3 linked regions of the Homo sapiens genome follow. The protein of the gene in region 1 interacts with the protein of each later gene in a pairwise test. Each region holds a gene or a part of one and is shown on either strand. Other genes may lie near its edges. The genes, in order: CFAP418, FRG1 and TXNRD2.

Region 1 (3,653 bases):
TATATGCATATTGACTTACCTGCTCCACAAGAGAAAAACCCAAGATGCTGATCAAGAATTTTTACCTCCATTTTATAAATGAAGAGATTGAGGTACTTGTGTTAAATTCATCAAACACATATTAACCACCTGATAGGTCCTAAGGATTAAATGAACAAATTTTGATGAACAAATAAATGGACACTTCCTGTCTTCAATGAGCTTTCAGTCTAGATGAGGAGATGGGCTTTAAATAGATTATTCCACAAATAAGTATTTATTTTCCATTTGATATGTGACATAAAGGGAACATATGGGATACTATAAGCATAGATAATGGACACTCTAACTAATATGAAGGGTCAGGGAATACTTCTCTGAGCAGATAATCAAACCACAATATGAAAAATGAGTAGGAGTTAGACAAAGAGAGGTGACCATTGGAGCCAGAGCACACGCATGTTTAGAAGCTCCCTGAGAAGGGGAGGAGCTGGGGGTGTTCCTCTGGTGGAAGGAACAGAGAGTATCTGGCCATGCTGGAGCATAATGAGTAGGGAAAGAATGGCCACTGACTGGGCTGGAGAGAGAGTGGAGGGACATTTGGCTTAGGGTCCTGTAATCCTTTTGAGGATTTTGGAAAAAGTTTGTCCTGTGTTCAATGGGCCAGATTTGTGTTTCTTAAAAAAGTCATGTTGGCTGCTGTGCAGAAAATGGCTTGGGAGTTGGAGGGGCAAGACAGGAAAGGACACAGGAAGACTAGTCAATGGGCAGTAGTTAGAGTGGTCCAGGAAAGAGAAGATGGGAGCTGTGACCTGCGTGGTAGCAATGGCTATAGGGAAAAGGTCAAATTTGAAATATTTAGAATATAGAATTGACAGAATTCAGTGATTGACTAAGGAGGGTAAGAAAGAAAGTTGTTAAGAATGACTCCCAAATAAGGTGCCTTGCTCAAGGTCATATCAGTTATTGCAAAGCAAGGATCCAGATTGGTTACTTGATTCCTAATCCATTATGCTTTCTATTATACCACTTAGCAGAAAGCCATGTAATATGGGAAGAATCTTAGCTGATGTTGCTGTTGGAACTGCTGTTATCTTCAAACTATCCAGACATCAAGTTTCTTTAGTCCCATTGTGCAGATCTGATAGGATTTAACAGAGAACCACAGTGTCTGGGCAGAAGATTGTATTGGGTTGGATTTGGGGCATTCCTGTCGTAAACATCTTTAAAATAGTGAATTCTACTTTTTAGCTGGACAAAAGAACAAAGCTCTTGGTGACATCTTATGTGTGATTCCCTCTACATTTTAGAGGGAAAGACCTGACAGTTTGTCTTTCACTGGAGTCATGACTTTATATTAGATATGCTTTTATGTACATAGTTATGAAAGAGAAATATATTTCAGCCCTGAAAAGAGTACTGATTTACATGGCCAGGGCATAAAGGAAATTGAATCTATCCTGCCTATTTGCGTTGTTTGATTTCTAGATACAGCTCTGGCTTGAGGTAATGCTGAATGACTTTAGATTTTAGAAAAAGATTTGTCTTTCACTTGTTGGTGGAAAAGGGGAGAGAATAGTAGTAGGAAGCATGGTGGCAGTAATAAGTACTACAGATAAAACGAAGGCATTTTCAAGCCAATCGAATTTTACTCTCAATTATTTTTTAAACAACTTGCAAGACTGGATTATTCCATAGACTGGTACTAATTATGATCTAATAGAGTAAATCGTAGCAGTGGAATGATTTCTTAGCTGCAAGTTAGTTTTATGTTTCTCAAAGGACAGTGTTTGTAGGAAAATGTGGTGGTGTGAATAGATTTGAATAAACTACTAAATTTTAAATTAAATTAAAAAGCTGTATTTAGCATTATGGTTGAGATTTTACACATACAAAATGTCAGGAAATTCTAAATTATAGTTCCCACAACAGCAATAATTCAGCCAAATTGCACATATGTATTAAGGCATTAAAGTTAACACTCTGTGCAATCATGTAATAAACTATATATGCATAAGAAAGCAGGTCATAGTAGCTTTGGGAACTATCAATTTGCATTTCCTGACTTGTACATTCGAAGTCTGAGTTCAAATGTGTACAAATGTAGTTGTTGAATTTCCAAATGTAGAAATGCAACTTCATAAATTGCTAACAGTTTGAAAGAAAATATGGACTTGCCTATGAAACTTGTATAGGTTTTAAATGTTTCATTATTATTATGGTTAATAGTATTTTTAGAAATACAAAGCATTTATTCTCAAAGAAATTTTCAGGCCAAAAGTATTTGCATTTTGAAATTAGCGTATCTGAACTTTGAAGGGAAATAAATGAAAAAAATCTAATGATGAGTTTATTTTTTCATTACAGAAGTATTATGTGCTTAATGAAAGAATAAAAACAAAATTGAAACATGTATAAAGAAAAAGATAATAATCTCCCTTCCTTCCCTTCAACCACTCCTGATGCAACCAGGGTTACTGTGTAGTATATAACTTTCTACATTTTGCTCCATGTTCTTTTTTTTTTGAGACAGAGTCTCGCTTTGTCGCCCAGGCTGGAGTGCAGTGGCGCGATCTCCCCTCACTGCAATCTCCGCCTCCCGGGTTCACGCCATTCTCCTGCCTCAGCCTCCTGAGTAGCTGGGACTACAGGCGCCCGCCACCATGCCCAGCTAATTTTTTTGTATTTTTAGTAGAGATGGGGTTTCACTGTGTTAGCCAGGATGGTCTCGATCTCCTGACCTCGTGATCCGCCCGCCTCAGCCTCCCAAAGGGCTGGGATTACAGGCGTGAGCCACCGCGCCCGGCCATTTTGCTCCATGTTCTTATAAACTTCTAGCCACCTATATAGGAATTTTTTGTGGGGGTCGTTTTTACAAAAATAGGATCATGCTATATATGTTAGTGTGCACCTTGCTTCAGATATCCCTCCAGGTTAGTATATAGTCTAGTTATCATGAGCATTGTTTGTTTCTTCTCTCACTGCAATCAAAGCTCTATGAAGACAGAATCTCATTAGCACATACCAGACTCTCAATAAATATTTTTTGAGTGAATGAATGCATTATGCCAAGTTGTGAGGAAGCAAACAAATACAATCTTTTCCCAGCGCTTAAGCAGCTTATCTGAAAAACAGATTCATTTCAATGTCATGTGACATATTCTTCGGTAGAGATATTCCTGAAAATTTCAGTAGGAAGGGGAGCATTTAAAGAAGTTAGCTTATATGACGATCTCCCTCAGACGTAATTTGAAAACCATGGAATTAAAAGATCTACAAATCTATTTTCTTTCATATCTATATAATATATGTGTAAGTTCAGTGTACAAGATCATAGTAAAATAGGTAGGTTTGTGCAAAAATTTAACCTTAAGGTTTAGACCGTAAATAATGCTTTAGTATAAAGATTTATAATCAGATTAATCTGTACTTTTCTGTTGTTTATTCAGTAATCTGTAATATGTGGTGTATCCTATAAATAAATCACCATGTTTTCATTGGTATTTAAAGATACCAATAATCTTTAATATACAATTTTTTTTCTCTGAACAGAGCATGTGACCATCTGCGTTGTATAGCCTGTGATTTCTTGGTAGTCAGCTATGATGACTATATGTGGGACAAATCGTGTGATTATCTGTTTTTCAGGTATGTTGCTAAAGAACTTCACTCTG
Region 2 (3,653 bases), on another chromosome or scaffold:
TATTGATAGTTATGTTAAAATCTCCAGCGGTAATTCTAGATCTGTCTACTTGAGCAGTTTTTGCTTAAAGTATTTTGAAGCCGTCATGTGTACACATTTAGGATTGTTAAGTCTTCCTTATAAATTCAGTCTTTCATTTTCATAACATTTTAACCTTATTTCTGTTAAATGTCTTGATGCCTAGTCAAATTATTTGACCACCCTTTTGCTCCTGTCAAGCCTGGGCCTTTGTTAGTTTGTGCTTATTTATTAGGGTTTTGCTCGTAGACTTAGACAGTGACTCTTAGTCTAGGAAAGGTTCATCCTCATGGGCCTCAGCCACATGTTCTAGGTATACTTAGTGAGTTCTCTCCACTCTGCTGTGTCCCAAATTTGTGTGATCTCTGGCATCTCCAGTCAGCCCTCAGAAGTGCCAGCCACTCTGCAGAGGCCTTGTGGAGCCTGCCTGCTGCATGCACTCCCCCCAGCCCTTGGCCACAGACCTGCAGAGAACTTTTGCGTACTCTTTTGAGGCCTCACCTGTATGTAGTTCCCTCTTCTCCAGTACCTTATTCTATAAACTCCCAACATGTTAGCACTGTAAGACTCTCAGCTTAGTGACAGTGACATTGCCTCATTTCTGGAGGTCTCTACCTCTCTCCGTGTGGTCAAGAAACTGCCATTGGGCAGAAAACACAAGTGTGTATGAGATTTGCCTCCAGTGTTTTCCTGTTCTCAAATATCACAGTCCTGTTCTGCCTGTGTTCCAATCTCTGAAAACAGTTTTCTCAAATATTCTATCCAGTTTCAGTTTTCTCGTTGGTCATGGTGGGAGGGCAAGTCCATCTTGGCTGGAAGAGGAAGTCCTTCTGCGTCTTTTTCTCTTTGTCCTTCCACATGGTTTTGCATTGTGGATTTTCTAAACTTGCCGTATAAGTAAGCATGTGCCTATTTGTGAAGGGAAAGAAAAAAAACCTTTTAATTTTTTAAAGCTGTTCTGTTGGTTCCTCACAAGGATCTGAAGGGATTGGTAAATAGGATGAAAGAAATTCTGTCTTTCACATGGAGAAAACCAAGTGTGACATTAATAAAAACGAGCATGTCTGTAGGCAAAGAGTTTCACTGAGCTCTGCTAGATTCAGAAGCAGTTGGACTTACAACATCGTACTTTGCAAAACACATATATTTTATTTACCCAGGAACTAAAGCTAAGTCAGCTGTGGATTAATAGAAGGTCTGTGAAGGGTACTTAGACTACAGTAAGATTGGGGAAGAAAATTCCATTTCCAAATCTAAGATATATCATTCCTTTGTGCCAAGCACATAATGATAGTAGAGATTTAAGGGGGCCCTTAGCACGGAAGCACTGGGTTAGTCAGAAGGTGAGGTGAGCTGTCACACAGCCTTGATGCTAGAATGAGGGTGCCCTGGTACTATCTTATCAGCCATGACACTGGTGCATTGGGCCATTTTTTTGTTTTGTTTTTTTTGAGACAGGCTCTTGCTTTGTTGCTCAGGCTGGAGTGCAGTGACATGATCGTGGCTCAGTGCACCCTCGACCTCGTAGGCTCAAGCAATCCTCTCACCTCCGACTCCCGAGTAGCTGGGACCACAGGCTCGTACCACCACACCCAGCTAATTTCTTAATTTTTTTGTAGAGATGGGGGTCTCCTTTTGTTGCCTAGGCTGATTTTGAACTCCTGGGCTAAAGTGATTCTCCTGCTTCCACCTCTCAAAGTGCTGGATTACAGGCATGCCAGACATATGTAAACATTCTAAACTATGTGACAATATGTGTAAAGCTTTCTCATGCATTGTGAGACAACACAGCAGGAATATTTCACCATCTGCCTAAGGTTTAAAAGGAAATAACTTTAAGCATGTGTCTAAATAGCAAGTAATGTTTTAGAGCGGATTCTCTTAAATTCAGCTTGGGCATCTGCACCATATACACAGCTTGAGCTGTCACCTGACGTAGAGACAGGCAACTTCAGTGCCCGTGTTCATAGGATCCACTGCTTTCTCACAGCTAAAACCCCAGAGTGGCACCATTAAGTATTATGTTATGTTACTTTAGTCGATAAACATATAAGCATACCTCCAAAGGTTGAATGTAGGCCACTTGCAGAAAGTAGGCAGAATGCTCACATTTAATTCTTGATGATACTGTGTTTATATTTCTTATTCTTTGAAATTGCATTGAGAAAAAATACTGGCATCTGCTCAAAGTAATTTCTTTTTCAGTTGACAATATTAAAGTAACGTTATTGTATCATTTCCCTACTTGGACAGAGTGTGAAAATTTTAAGGAGCTTGTCTGCCAGAAATTTCTTCTTCATTTGCAAAACATTAATGAGTTATTATATTTAAATGATTTTATTTAATATTAAGTGTACTTGGTCAATGTGGCATAGAACATACAAAATAAATCTAATTTAAAATCATTAACTATTATATTTATAAGAAAGACTTGCTAATCATAACACTGTTGATAATGATTCTGAATAAAGCATTATTTCTTTTCCTGAAAACAATTGTAGCTATAATTCAATCATCTAAATTGCTTATTAGTTTTATTTCTTTTTAATTGTCTTTAGCTGAAATTTTAATTTTGATTAATTTTCTTTTTCTCCATTGGTTTTGTGTGTGTGTGGAGGTAAAATATACAGAATATAGAATTTGCCAGTTTTTCTATTTTTACGTGTATGCTTCAGTGGCATTTAAATACATGCACCATTTTACCTTCCCACCAGCATTGCACAGGGTTTCCGTTTCTCCACATCCTGCCCAACATTTGTTTTTCTGGCTTTCTTGGTTTCTGTTTTTTGTTTGTTTGTTTGTTTTGATAATAGCTATTCTAATGGGTGTGAAGTGGTATTGCATTATGGTTTTGATTTATATTTCCCTAGTGACTAGTGATGTTGAGCGTCTTTTCAAGTGCTTATTGGCCATTTGTATATCATCTTTGGAGCAATGTCCGTGTATATCCTTTGCCCAGTTTTGAATTGTGGTATTTGTCTTTTTGGAGTTCTCTATATAGTCTGGATATTAATTCCTTATAATGTATGTAGTTTACAAATATTTTCTCCATTCCCTGGGTTGCCTTTTACTCTGTTGATGGCGGTTCTTGATGCACAAAAGTTTTTAATTCTGATGAAGTCCAGTTTGTCCACGTTTTCTTTTGTTGCCTGTGCCTTTGATGTTCTACATAAGAAATCATTGCCAAATTCATGTCGTGAAGCTTTTCCCATTTTCTTCTAAAAGTTTTCTAACTTTAGCTCTTACATTTAGGTCTTTGGTCTGTTTTAAGTTACTTTTTGTATTTGGCATTAGATAAGGGTCCAACTTCATTTTAGCTAAAATTTTATGTATTTTAAAATTTATTATGGAAAGCATGAAATGTTTAGTTGAATAGAAAATTTTGTGCAGTGGAATTAACTGAATCTTTAAAACCTTTTTATTATGGAAATATCCAAACTATTCCATACATAGAAGAATATAATGAGTCCCCCATGTGCCCAGGCCCCAGCATTAATTATCAATATTTTGCCAATCTCATTTCATTTACACACATGCCCCCACACACATTTTTTCTTAGAAAATTTTAAGTAAAATCACAGATGTTATGTCATTTTACCCATGAGTACATAAACGTACATTTCTTAACGTGGTAT
Region 3 (3,564 bases), on another chromosome or scaffold:
TCTGGAGGGGTGCAGGAGTGATGAACAGCCTGTGCGGCAGCCCCTCTGCAGCACAGCCAGCCCTGCCCGGCGGGCCAGACTCCCACACACGCCATCTAGAGCCAGCTGGCACACCCGCACAGGTGTCAGAGGATGTTAGCAGTGACTGTTTTTCTCCTCTTGAAACCAGAAGCTGTGGCCAGCTTCACTGCTGGTCCGTGCAAGTCCCCATTGTCCTGGGAACAGGGCCCCCATCTGTAGCTGGACTTGGGGCGCACAGGCCTCCTGGGCCGGGAGGGAGAAGCAGGACTCTCTCTGTCCCTGATCTGGACCTGAGCCTGCTGTGCCTACATTTCTAGGCGGGAGCAGAGTCTCCTACCTACCCTCCTGGCTCCTGGATGGCAGAGGGGCATGTTGGCCACATGTGGAGGGGTGGGCCAGGAGCAGGGGCCATCTTGTTGGACCAGGGCACAGCTCCTGGGGGAAGGCACGCTTCTCTGCCATTGGTTTTAGTGAAGACTAAGTTTTTTGTTTTTGTTTTTTAAAGAAATGTGTAGATGTACCAGGATTTGGTTGTTTTTCTTTTTTTTCTTTCTTTTTTTTTGGTTTGAGACAGAGTCTCACTCTGTCACCCAGGCTGGAGTGCAGTGGCACAATCTCGGCTCACTGCAAGCTCCACCTCCCGGGTTCACGCCATTCTCCTGCCTCAGCCTCCCAGTTAGCTGGAACTACAGGTACCTGCCACCACGCCTGGCTAATTTTTTGTGTTTTTTAGTAGAGACAGTGTTTCACCGTGTTAGCCAGGATGATCTCTATCTCCTGACCTCGTGATCCGCCCGCCTCAGCTTCTCAAAGTGCTGGGATCACAGGTGTGAGCCATCGCACCCGGCCTTGCTTATTTTTTCTTTTAGAGATAGAGTCTCACTCTGTCGCCCAGGCTGGAGTGCAGTGGTGTGATCACAGTTCATTGCAGCCTCAAACTCCTGGGCTTGAGGGATTCTCCCACTTCAGCCTCCCAAAAGGTTGGGATTACAGGTGTGACCGTATCTGGCTGATGAAGACTTAGTTAATTAGCATCTAGAGAGGAGCCCACAGGCTGAGTGAATCCTGACCATAGGGCCCAGGGTTGAGGACTTGGAGCCAGGACAGGGGCTAGACACTCCACAGAGAGCAAGAGGACGTAGAGCAGGGGGCAGGGTGTCTCACCCCGTCTTCCGCACAGACCCCTCTCCGCCCTTCATTGAGGCCTTCGAGAGCAGGGCAGGGCCAGAGCCTCTCTCCCACGGCCACCTGGTCTTCATGGCCTGTCTTCTTGTGCTTTGCAGCAAATGTCCTCCATGGTCATAGAGCACATGGCATCTCATGGCACCCGGTTCCTGAGGGGCTGTGCCCCCTCGCGGGTCAGGAGGCTCCCTGATGGCCAGCTGCAGGTCACCTGGGAGGACAGCACCACCGGCAAGGAGGACACGGGCACCTTTGACACCGTCCTGTGGGCCATAGGTAAGGGCACGTCGAGCCACACGCTCTGTCTCTGGTCTCCCCGAGGTGCATGGAGAATCTTTGCCCCACTTCCTGTCACCTCCCAGGGCTCCCCCATCCTGCTGGCTGCCAGGCGGGTTGGCCGCTCCCCAGTGCACCTCGAGAGCAACCGTGAAGGCCTGTGGGGCGGCACTCACACTAGGCTGTGCCCATCTTGCCATCCCCAGCACCTTGCATCTCTGCGTGTCTCCCCACCACCGTGGGACATGCTGGAAAAAACCAGAGAAGAGACTGAGACGGCATCAGCCAGGTGTCCTCATCGAGGATCAACTAGGCAATCATCCTCGCCTTCCCTGGCCCTTGAGCAATTGCTTATTAAGGTTTCAGCACATAAATCCTACTTGTCACCTTCCAGGTTTAAGTCTTGGTATGTTTCTTTTCTTTTTTTTTTTTTTTTTGAGATGGAGTCTCGCTCTGTCGCCCAGGCTGGAGTGCAGTGGCAACCTCCGCCTCCCGGGTTCAAGCGATTCTCCTGCCTCAGCCTCCTGGGTAGCTGGGGCTACAGGCGCCCACCACTACACCTGACTAATTTTTGTATTTTTAGTAGAGACGGGGTTTCACCATGTAGGCCAGGATGGTCTCAATCTCCTGACCTTGTGATCCACCTGCCTTGGCCTCCCAAAGTACTGAGATTACAGGTGTGAGCCACCGCACCTGGCCAGTATGTATTTTTTCTTTAGCATATTAAATGTTTTGCTGCTTCAGGCTTTCCAGCTAGGTTTTTTTCTTTTTTTGCGTGTGAAACAGGGTCTCTCTCTGTTGCCTAGGAGGAGTGTGGTGGTGTGATCATAGCTCACTGCAGCCTCCACCTCCCAGGCTCAATCAATCTTCCCATCTCAGCCTTCTAAGTGCTGGGATTACAGGTTTGAGCTACTGTGCCCAGCCAAGCTAGTTTGTTGTTTTTAACATAAAAATGATATGGATTTGAAAGTTTTAAAAATTATGGTGACATACACATAACATCAAATTCATCATCTTAAGCATTTTAAAGTATATAGTTCAGTGGTGTTAAGTACGTTCATATTGTACAAGCAGCATGACCATCCATCTCTAGAACTTTTCCATTATCTCCAAACTGAGCTCTGTCCCCATTAAACACTCACTCCCTGCTGCCCGGGCACTCACCCTTCACTGTGTGTCTCTATGGATCTGACTCCTCGAGGGACTTCATGTAAGTAGAATCATGCAGTGTTTGTCCTTTTGTGACTGGCTCATTTCTCTTAGCACAATGTTTTCAGGGTGCATCCATGTTGCAGCATTTGTTAGAGTTAGCATTTGTGTAGCATGTGCCAGCATTTCCTTCCTGTTGAAGGCTGAGTTGTATGTGTGTCCATTATCTGTCAGTGGACACTTAGGTTGCTTCCGTCTTTTGGCTGTTGTGGATCATGCTGCTGTGAACATGGGTGTGCACAAGCCGCCTGTTTTCAGCACATAAAAATGACACAGAGTTTTTAAAGTTCTGTCCAGCCTTCTCGTGGCTTTCAGTGTTTCCCAGTGGGTCCCTTTGGGCCTGGCAGGTCATCACATGCCAGGAGTGGCATTTTGCAGGCCTTTCCAGAAGTCACATTTCGAAGGCTTCCAAAGACATCACCCTTCCAGTGCTGGGCAGAGGCCTGGGCGTTTCCCGGCCAGGCGTGGGCTGGCTACAACTTGCTGGGCACAGTCTGGTCTCACCTTCTTGCTCTCTGTCAGGTGTAGGTCCGGTTTTGCATGGGGCAGTGGCCGAGCAGGTGTGGGGAGTGTGGACACAGCCAGGGGATACCTGTGCCCAGGCCTGGGCCGGGGCTGTCTGACGGGACTGGCAAGGGGCAGCTGGAGCCAACAGGGATCGCCCAGACACTGCTCTGTCCCAGGCCTGCTGCAGAGGAGGCCATTGCAGATGGGCCGCCGCAAGGAGGGCTGCGGGTCCTCGTCAGGGTGGGTGGCGGCACACACAGCATGCCTGCTCAGATGTCCTACCCACCTCGGTGCCTGGCCGTCTAGTTTAGGCTCCTAGTTTTCCCAATCACCCTGTCAACTTGCATGTTGAAGGCGGGAGCAACCTAG

What was found.
Region 2: the proteins of CFAP418 (region 1) and FRG1 interact in a two-hybrid assay, tested with the Homo sapiens proteins (one study listed by IntAct).
Region 3: the proteins of CFAP418 (region 1) and TXNRD2 interact in a two-hybrid assay, tested with the Homo sapiens proteins (one study listed by IntAct).

What each region holds. Positions count from the first base shown.
Region 1 is NC_000008.11:95,252,162-95,255,814, reverse strand, and holds part of CFAP418 (cilia- and flagella-associated protein 418), read left to right. Parts: intron 1-3,531; coding exon 3,532-3,627; intron 3,628-3,653. UniProt on the Homo sapiens protein: May be involved in photoreceptor outer segment disk morphogenesis.
Region 2 is NC_000004.12:189,947,240-189,950,892, forward strand, and holds part of FRG1 (protein FRG1), read left to right. Parts: intron 1-3,653. UniProt on the Homo sapiens protein: Binds to mRNA in a sequence-independent manner. May play a role in regulation of pre-mRNA splicing or in the assembly of rRNA into ribosomal subunits. May be involved in mRNA transport.
Region 3 is NC_000022.11:19,893,322-19,896,885, reverse strand, and holds the end of TXNRD2 (thioredoxin reductase 2, mitochondrial isoform 5 precursor), read left to right. Parts: intron 1-1,304; coding exon 1,305-1,479; intron 1,480-1,685; coding exon 1,686-1,753; 3' UTR 1,754-2,978; downstream 2,979-3,564. UniProt on the Homo sapiens protein: Involved in the control of reactive oxygen species levels and the regulation of mitochondrial redox homeostasis. Maintains thioredoxin in a reduced state. May play a role in redox-regulated cell signaling.